Regions from separate parts of the Homo sapiens genome. Here regions 1 and 3 are each linked to region 2. Evidence: fine-mapped expression QTL. A gene starts in region 2. Each other region holds a variant in brackets. All regions are shown on one strand. Distances are from middle to middle. Region 1 overlaps EXOC4 (exocyst complex component 4). Region 2 holds the start of EXOC4 (exocyst complex component 4). Region 3 overlaps EXOC4 (exocyst complex component 4).

Region 1 (2,761 bases), 810 kb after region 2:
TGAAGCACCACCATTCTGAGTGCTTTATACGTATTAATTAATTCAACTATTTCAATAACCCCAAGAGGTAGGTACTATTATTAACCCACTTTATGGAGCAGAAAACCATGTACAGTATTTTACAAAACCTCCAATGAATAATGAATGAATGAGGGATTGAATGAGACAAAACCTGTTAACAATGCCTTCTCTCCTTCTTCAGGCTATACCCCTACTTTTCTTTCCTTTCTCCCAAGGTAAATGCAAAATTAGCAAAAAAATGTAGAATGAGCTGAGCCACAGAAAGGTATGCGGCCTCCCTGGGTCCTCACTTAGACTTCTCCTGAAGAGAGCTCCCATGAGCTCCAAAGGACAGAGCTTATGGTTGTCCTGTTCTTTATTCTGTTGGTGGGGCCTAGAACACTGCCTGCTGATCAATCGTTATGAAGTAAGTAGAGGAATCAATGTATAGACAGCGTATTTGTCCCCTCGAGACGACGTTACCAGTGGGGAGCCAGTGAGCAGTGTTCTCTCTTGCTTTCTCAGGCAGTACTACGAGATGCTTTACAACACAGCTGACGAGCTCCTGAACCTGGTGGTGGACCAGGGTGTGAAGTACACGGAGCTGGAGTACATCCACGCTCTGACCCTGCTGCACCGCAGCCAGACTGGGGTGGGGGAACTGACCACCCAGAACACGAGGCTGCAGAGGCTCAAAGAGATCATCTGCGAGCAGGCTGCCATCAAGCAAGCCACCAAGGACAAGAAGATAACTACCGTTTAGCAGGGCGTACTGCGGTTGGTGACGGGGGTCCCCTCAGTCACACTCACTTTTTTCCTTGGTATGTTATTGAGTATATTCTGAGCTTAGTTTTCTCTACAGTGATACTTTAGTGGAGAGGAGGTGTAAGGATTCTTTCTCTCTGGTTTTGGCTTTTCATATAAATGCTAAAGGAAGGCGACAGTACAGAGTGTTTTGGTTGAACAACTACTTTAATGCAGTCAAATCTAACGGGACTAGGGTGGGATAGGGAGGAAGGTGGTATCAAATTGTTGGACTCTGAAAAACAAGTGGATGGATTACTAATATTTGATTTATTACTCAATATATATATAATTCCAGCCTTGGAAAGTAGGAAAGTAGGCTGCTACCTAACTTTTAGTCCCTTCCAAAACCATTTAGTAGGGTTCTATTACATAAACAGTAGGGTTTTTCCTCTCCTGACCTTATCCGTTTACAGTTCAATGAAATAAGTGTATGTGCATTGCTGTCTGTCTCTATTGCCAAAATCAAATAAATGGCTTCTCAGCTGCTGTTTACAACAAACTTCCCTAACCAAAACAGAACCTCTAATTTAGGGCTAGGAATAGAAGTCTTTTGATCCCAGTCCCTGGGACAGTTTTGTATGCTGTATCTTGTACACAGGTTGTAGGTTGGTTTATTGCCATTTTGTTTTATTTCTGCT[G/A]TATAAAAACCAAGAGCCAGACAATTAGACAACTATGGAGGAATGAAAGGCAATTCAAACATCTGCTTGATTCCCGCCCCGCCACCCCTAATTTCTGAGAGAATAATGGTTAGAGAACATTGCATCTCACTTGAAACATCCTTTGGGGGTAAATGATTCTTAGGTGCTCACTTGGTCTGAGCTCAGCTGAATGCAGGGAAGATGGGACAGAGTGACATTTCTCCTCTGTGCGGCCTCCAGCTGAGCCTGTCTCTGAATTGTTCCCTCCCCCGCAATGTGGGCACTTACCATGTTCCTGGCACACTGGACCTCACCATGTCCCCCGGTCACCAGTCCTCTTGCTGCCCATGGTTCATAGGTCATAGAAGGCAGCAATGCACTGACTGGGCCACATCTTGAAAACTCGTGGAAAGGGAAAGGGGAGGAGATGGGACTTTGACCACACACAGTGATGCCTCACACCCTGAAGGTGGGGGATTTTGTACCTGTTTGTACAACTTTGGTCTTGATGGGAAAAATGGAGAATTAAAAAGTGTTTTGAGAAGCTTAAATGTTTCATGTTATTTTTCTTGTGTTCTTTATTCAGCAAATATTCCCCAGAAGCCTAATATGTGCTCCATGCTACCACACACAAGGGCAAATGGATAGATGAAGAGGACACCCTTATTATCTAAGAGTGTGGGAACTGGACTGGAGCCAAAAATCCCAACAGCTCAAACTCAGGGCTGGGTCAGAATCAGGTCAGGCAGTGGGGCTGCCGGGAAGGGGATTCAGTGGGCAGCTGGAGGTTCCAGGGGATTCTGGTGGGAAAGAATGTAGTCAATCTGTCTGGCTCCAAGGGCCTGACTGGGAAGAAGTTGAATCTCTGTAGGAGACAACTGTGGAAAAACATACTGCCCTAAACGATATCATGAGAAATAGTCTACCCTAGAAGCAGGAGTGGAAGAAGGGGGGATGAGAGGAGATTAGGGTTGCCTAAGCTGCTGCTTCATGGCCGTGACCCCCAGCATTGATTCTGTACCTTTCCTTTTTCTTCCTGTCCACTCCAGGCGGAGAACCCGGAGTGGTGACAGTGATGGCAGCAGAGCCAGGGTGAGACTGAGAGTGCTCAGACTAATTTTCTTGGAAGTAGTGGAAAGCTCCGCTAAAAAAGAAACATGGGTTTGGATTGAGCAGAATGTCAAGAGCCCTGAGAACCAACCAAAAAATGGCAGATGAGCTGTTTCAGGGGCAACATTTAGGAAAGTGAAATCTCTGCTTTGCTTACAATGACGGGACTGAAAATGGCAATTCTGCACAGGAAAGGGACTGTGGGA
Region 2 (2,801 bases):
TGGCCTCAAGTGGTCTGCTCGGCTCTGCCTCTCAAAAAGTGTTGGGATTACAGGTGTGAGCCATCACACTTGGCCCAAAAATCTTATTTTCTTTAAAAGCCATTAAAATTATGATTTCCAGAAGCTATATGTTATTTCCTCATTTGAATGTTACATAATTTATTTAATTCTTCTGTGTTATTTAAAAAATGTCAATACTCTATATTTCTTTAGGAACAAAGTCCCTAGAACTGGAATTATTGGGCCAAAGGTTATGAATACTTTTAAGTTATCGTGTGTGTGTGTGTGTGTGTGTTATCTTCAACTAATTTTTAAAAATGTGAACTTCTACCAGCTCGATGTCTATTTAATAAAAGTAATTGATGTGTTCTGAGCTTGCTGCTCACAACTCCATGACCTCTGAGTTAGTTTGCTTTCTATTCCTTTAAGTTCTTCAATCTTTATTGCTACTGAGCAGGCCACCTCCTTCCTTACTTTTAAATTATTATTATTCTTGTTCCTCAGTCTAACCACTTTCCACGCACATTCTGGTCTTTTTTGTTTTGTTTTGTTCATTTGGTCTTATGAATTAATGACTAAGCCAACGGAACCAAATGCAGGAAATACTAAAAACTTACCGGTAAAAGTATTAACACAAATGTGCATTACTACTAAGTATTTCATTTAGCTTGAAAAAAAAAAAAAAGGAATCTGCAGTGTGGTCTGTTTGTTTTTAGCTTATACTGTCTTTTCTTCATCAATATTCATTTATTCCTGTACGTGTGGTTTTAGAACTATCTGGAAATATAGGAACATTGGGAAAAATTGAACTCCACATAAACCTAATGTAGAAACATTAGTTTTACAGAATACTAAAGAAAAGCATTTCTGCTTATATTCATTTTCGTATTTTATTGGATTTTTTAAAAAATCACTTGCACTTAAGGCAAAAACTTCGCACATAGACATCCGGCAGAGAACCCCTCTTTCATTTAAATACAAACCCTAACACATTTTGGCATCATCAGATAAATTTGATTTAAAGCCTGACAAAATTCTAAAAGCAAGGAAACTGAAAAAAGCTGGAAGTCAGAATAAAGATAAATGAAGACACTCATTACAAGACTTAGGAAGTTGCAGCTGGTTTAGCTTTCCTGCGCGCCCAGGAGACGGAGAAGGAAAACTACGACTCCCAGAGTGCTTAGAGAGAACACGCGCGTCGTGGCCTCAAAACTTGCTCCCTTAGTCCCGCCTCCTCACTTCAGTGATTGGATTTTCCACTTCCGCGCCTCTGGAATTCTCTTCACCCATTGGTGGAGACTCCTGCGGGGTCAAATACAGAATTTACGCACCCTTGGCTTCCTTGGAGCCTAGCGGCTCTCCCCGCGTCCAAGATGGCGGCAGAAGCAGCTGGTGGGAAATACAGAAGCACAGTCAGCAAAAGCAAAGACCCCTCGGGGCTGCTCATCTCTGTGATCAGGTGAGGGAGGCAGGAGGCAGGGTCTGGGGACTGGGGGCAGCGGCTCGACCTCCGCTTTGGAAGGGAGAAGGGTTAGCTGGGTCCCACCCTGCTCTCCCCTTTCCTCCTTGCCTCCCGCAGCCCCTCCCCAGGGCTCTAACCCCTCCCCAGGGCCCCAGCAATTCCCCCTCCACCTTTTTTTTCTGGGGTTAGCTATAGAGAGAGGAGCCCCGCCTCAGTCTTTTCTTTAGGGGCAGCACCTTCTATTACAGTCTCGGGACCCCAAAGCACGCTATTTGGGTTTGGTAGAGAAAACCAGGTGTAAAGGTGTGTTTATTGATTCCTAAAATGCTTGTTTATTGTTTGCCTGTAGCAGCACTCACTGAGAAAGGCGTCTTGTTTCCTGGACTTTGGGGTGTAAGGCCTTGGAGTCCGGAGATTCCTGTCACGAGTTGCAGATTTGTGTTTTCACACTCTGGATACTTTCAACCACCTGTGCGTGGCCACAGCCACAAATACAAGAATCTGCAGTGAGCTGGTAGGAGGACTGGGTTTGAAGGCACACATCGGTTTTCAATTTTTTGCCCTGCCTCCGCATTCTGGTCCATTCCTTAAAAAACAGAACCAAACCAATTTCAAATTATCCTCCATGCACTGCCCCTCTGCACCTCCCAGAAGATTAGGGTGGGGGTGGAGTGGGAGCGGTGGATCTTTTAGGAGCTTTTTTTTAAAAAAGCGAAATATATTGAGGATGGGGGAACCCTTTCAAGAATCTTGGATATGATGCAGGTACTGACTAAAACCAATCTAAATAAAATTTATTATGGCACGTTTTTTACGTTGTTGGCATTTGAATTTCAACTCGTTTATTTTTCATAAACAAACACTCTATTTTTCCCCACCTATACTAAACTTTTGTTTGAGTTCTTGCAAGTTTTCTGGAATGTATTGATCATCTTTTCAAAACCCAGGGCCCAACATTATCTGGTAGGTACTAAGCACTTCAATGAATGCATGTATCAAACCATTAGAACAGCTTACCACTCACTGACAAAGACACATCTTATGGGTCTTATTTAGGAGGCTTTAAGATTATGGCCTATTAAATCATTACTTTAATTTTCTTTTGGGCTTAAGAGAAAAACATCTCTGTGTGGAAATGCTTAATATACTTGGTAGGCCATACAGAGGAAGTGCTGTTGTATTGTGAATCTATAGGCCCACATTCTCGCTGTGACAATACGCAGGTAGTGTAGATGTATCTCATGATACTAAAATTCCAATAAGAATGTTTGTTGTTTCCCATCTGAATTTCCTGTGGAATTAGAATACCAGGACATTATTTGGATCCTTTTTTGAACTT
Region 3 (2,500 bases), 810 kb after region 2:
ATTCAGCTCAATTTTTCTCCCTCTCAAATTTGTATTTCAGAAGTCAGATTCAGCACAGAATTCACTTGTTGACATTAATACTAGAGCTTTATCTTGGGAAGGACTACAAGAGAAAGTCTTTACAATGAAAATAATTATCTCCCTTCCCCAAAAAAGTACTGAATCAGAGGGACAGTCAACTTTTGGAAAGAAAGGTTACTTCATCCATTACCAACTTGAAGGGGCAAAAAGGGAAGAAATAAAAAGAGGTGACAAAATGAAAAAGCCAAAAACTCTTGCTTGTAAACTCCCAAATTAAGTGTTAAATTTACAACATGACTGCATTACTTGGTTTAGAGCACTGAATTCCCAGATCAAATCCAGTGTTGTTCAGATATAACTGCAAAGTTTGTACAAACGAATTTGAATCACCACAATACTGGCTCATTGCATTACAAAGAAAGAGCTGAGTATGGGAATTTTATTTAATTCATATTTGTGTACTCAAGACTCAAATGAGTCAGCGATAAAAATATTCTTTTCAGTTAGTTCTTTTGCTTTTTATAGTTTCAAATATTTTTGTATTAAGGTGGTTTTAGAGTAAATACAGGGCTCAAAAGTCTTTCATTTTGAGGCCTTAGACAAATCACTAATACTCTGTAGATCTCAATTTTCTCATATGTATAACGTAGATAATTGTAGTTCCTATTTAAAAGGATTGAAATGCACCTAAAAGCTAGACATTATTATTAATATTCTACAATCAAGACAGATTTCAAAACCCAGCATGAGACGTAGCTGTATATTTTAAAACACAGTTTCCATTCCGGGATCTAGGACTCTGAATTCTACCAAGTAAAGGAAGGCAAAAGGCAAAGCTTTCCTCAGAGACCTTGGACAGTTCCCCAGTCAGGGCCTTGCTGTCACCCCTACAGGCAAAGTTTATGGAACGCCTACAAGTACAGGAACAAGAGTTGCCATGGGCGGGAATAGTTTATGTTAGTGAGTATTTCTTCCCTCAATTTGCAAAGAAGGGAACTGAAACTGTTTCTAATCACTTTCAGAGATGCAGTACTAATTTTTGCACTGAGTATGCCAACTTGGGAGGTAGAACCAGGGATGAGAAAACTCCCTGGCCTCTTGTCTATGAAAATTTATGAAAAGCTCTTAAAGAGAAGT[C/G]AGAAAAGCACTAATACTCAAAGATAAAAAGATATCAACAATTCATTTATACATACACGCATACCTACATACATTAAAAACAAATAAGTAGATGAAAAATTGTTCCACCTCATGCAAATCAAAAGAATGTGAGTTAGATGCTGCCCATATGTTGTTGATAGGAGGATAAATTGATAGAGCTTTTTTAGAAAGCAACTTGGCAGCATTGTCAAGTGTCCTAAATAATATACTTATCTTTTAACTAATTCTGTTTTTAGAAATCTATCCATGAGAAAGTAAGTCTTTATAATTGGAAACAATTGAAGTATCCAATTGTGTTTCAACCTAAATATTTCAACTATAAGAAAGAAATTGGCTAGAACACTACATGTGGTGGGGGCGAACTACAAGAAAATATGCCAAACTGTGGTTTATCTTTATGATGAAATTATGAGAAATCTTTCTGTATGGCCCATATATTCTATATGGCATATGTATTAACTTTCCAATCAGAGGAAGATAAAATTTTGTTTTAAAACTTTAAAAAGATCTGCCCACCTTTCCAAAATACCCTGTATTTCCTTCCTGGTAGAAATGTTTTCAGACAGAATGTATGGGGGAGAAAGAGTCGCAGTGCAATACCATTAAAATAAAGCACAAAAGAAAAAGCCACAGAGAACAGTCTGTTGATAAAGCAAACATGAGGAAGATAAGAGAAAATGATCTGTTTGCACCAGAACAAAGCATAAACATTGTTATGTTCTAGACTCTGCACATGAGACCAGTCTGTGAAGTCACACCTCCTCTTCTCTGTCACTCTACTCCCTCACCTATCTGCTTATAATACTTTGGGAACTGCTGCAAAAAGGCACACAGCAAAGGGTAGGAGAAGCCACAGCAAGGTGCACATCTCCTTCCAGAATGTTCCATCCAGCAGGGTGACTTGAAACTCTTTGGTCTCCAGAATAAGATATTTGGTGTACATCTAGCAATTGACTGCTGAATATTGTAGGCTATGAAGAGTCTGTGAAGGGCTACAAACCATGAGCCAGAAAATGTCTCAATCAAATGTGCATTCACTGATCCCATCCAGGCAGCCCCAGCAAAGTGTCATCAAATGGAAAATGTGTTGCCCTGGAAGCCACGGCTGCTATTTTAATGCTCGATGATGAAGACCAAGCTTTCAATTTCCTGGGGCCTCAATAAGTGCTGATAAATTATTTATCCCTATTGGGTGACATGATTTCATTTCAGTCTGACAGTGTTTATCATGGAAGCTCATTCTAATGGTATAGTTTGGGGCATTTTTCTATTTTCTCTTTAGGACACCTGGTAGCACCCTTTCCCCACCTCCAGGTGAAAC

Evidence for each region.
Region 1: its variant is fine-mapped to the expression of EXOC4 in tibial artery (GTEx, PIP 0.97).
Region 3: its variant is fine-mapped to the expression of EXOC4 in testis (GTEx, PIP 0.96).

Annotation. Positions count from the first base shown.
Region 1 is chr7:134,063,766-134,066,526 of GRCh38, forward strand. EXOC4 (exocyst complex component 4) reads left to right here. Exons shown (of 18, transcript NM_021807.4): 18 at 526-1,996. The coding sequence ends at 763. Among named protein-coding and RNA genes, the nearest start is that of LRGUK, 62 kb to the right of the region's middle. The variant G/A (reference allele first, on the strand shown) is at 1,446.
Region 2 is chr7:133,251,729-133,254,529 of GRCh38, forward strand. It overlaps EXOC4 (exocyst complex component 4), which reads left to right and starts at 1,350. Exons shown (of 18, transcript NM_021807.4): 1 at 1,350-1,459. The coding sequence starts at 1,374. RefSeq lists enhancers at 1,117-1,166, 1,377-1,436.
Region 3 is chr7:134,058,231-134,060,730 of GRCh38, forward strand. The region is part of intron 17 of EXOC4 (exocyst complex component 4); the gene reads left to right. Among named protein-coding and RNA genes, the nearest start is that of LRGUK, 68 kb to the right of the region's middle. The variant C/G (reference allele first, on the strand shown) is at 1,159.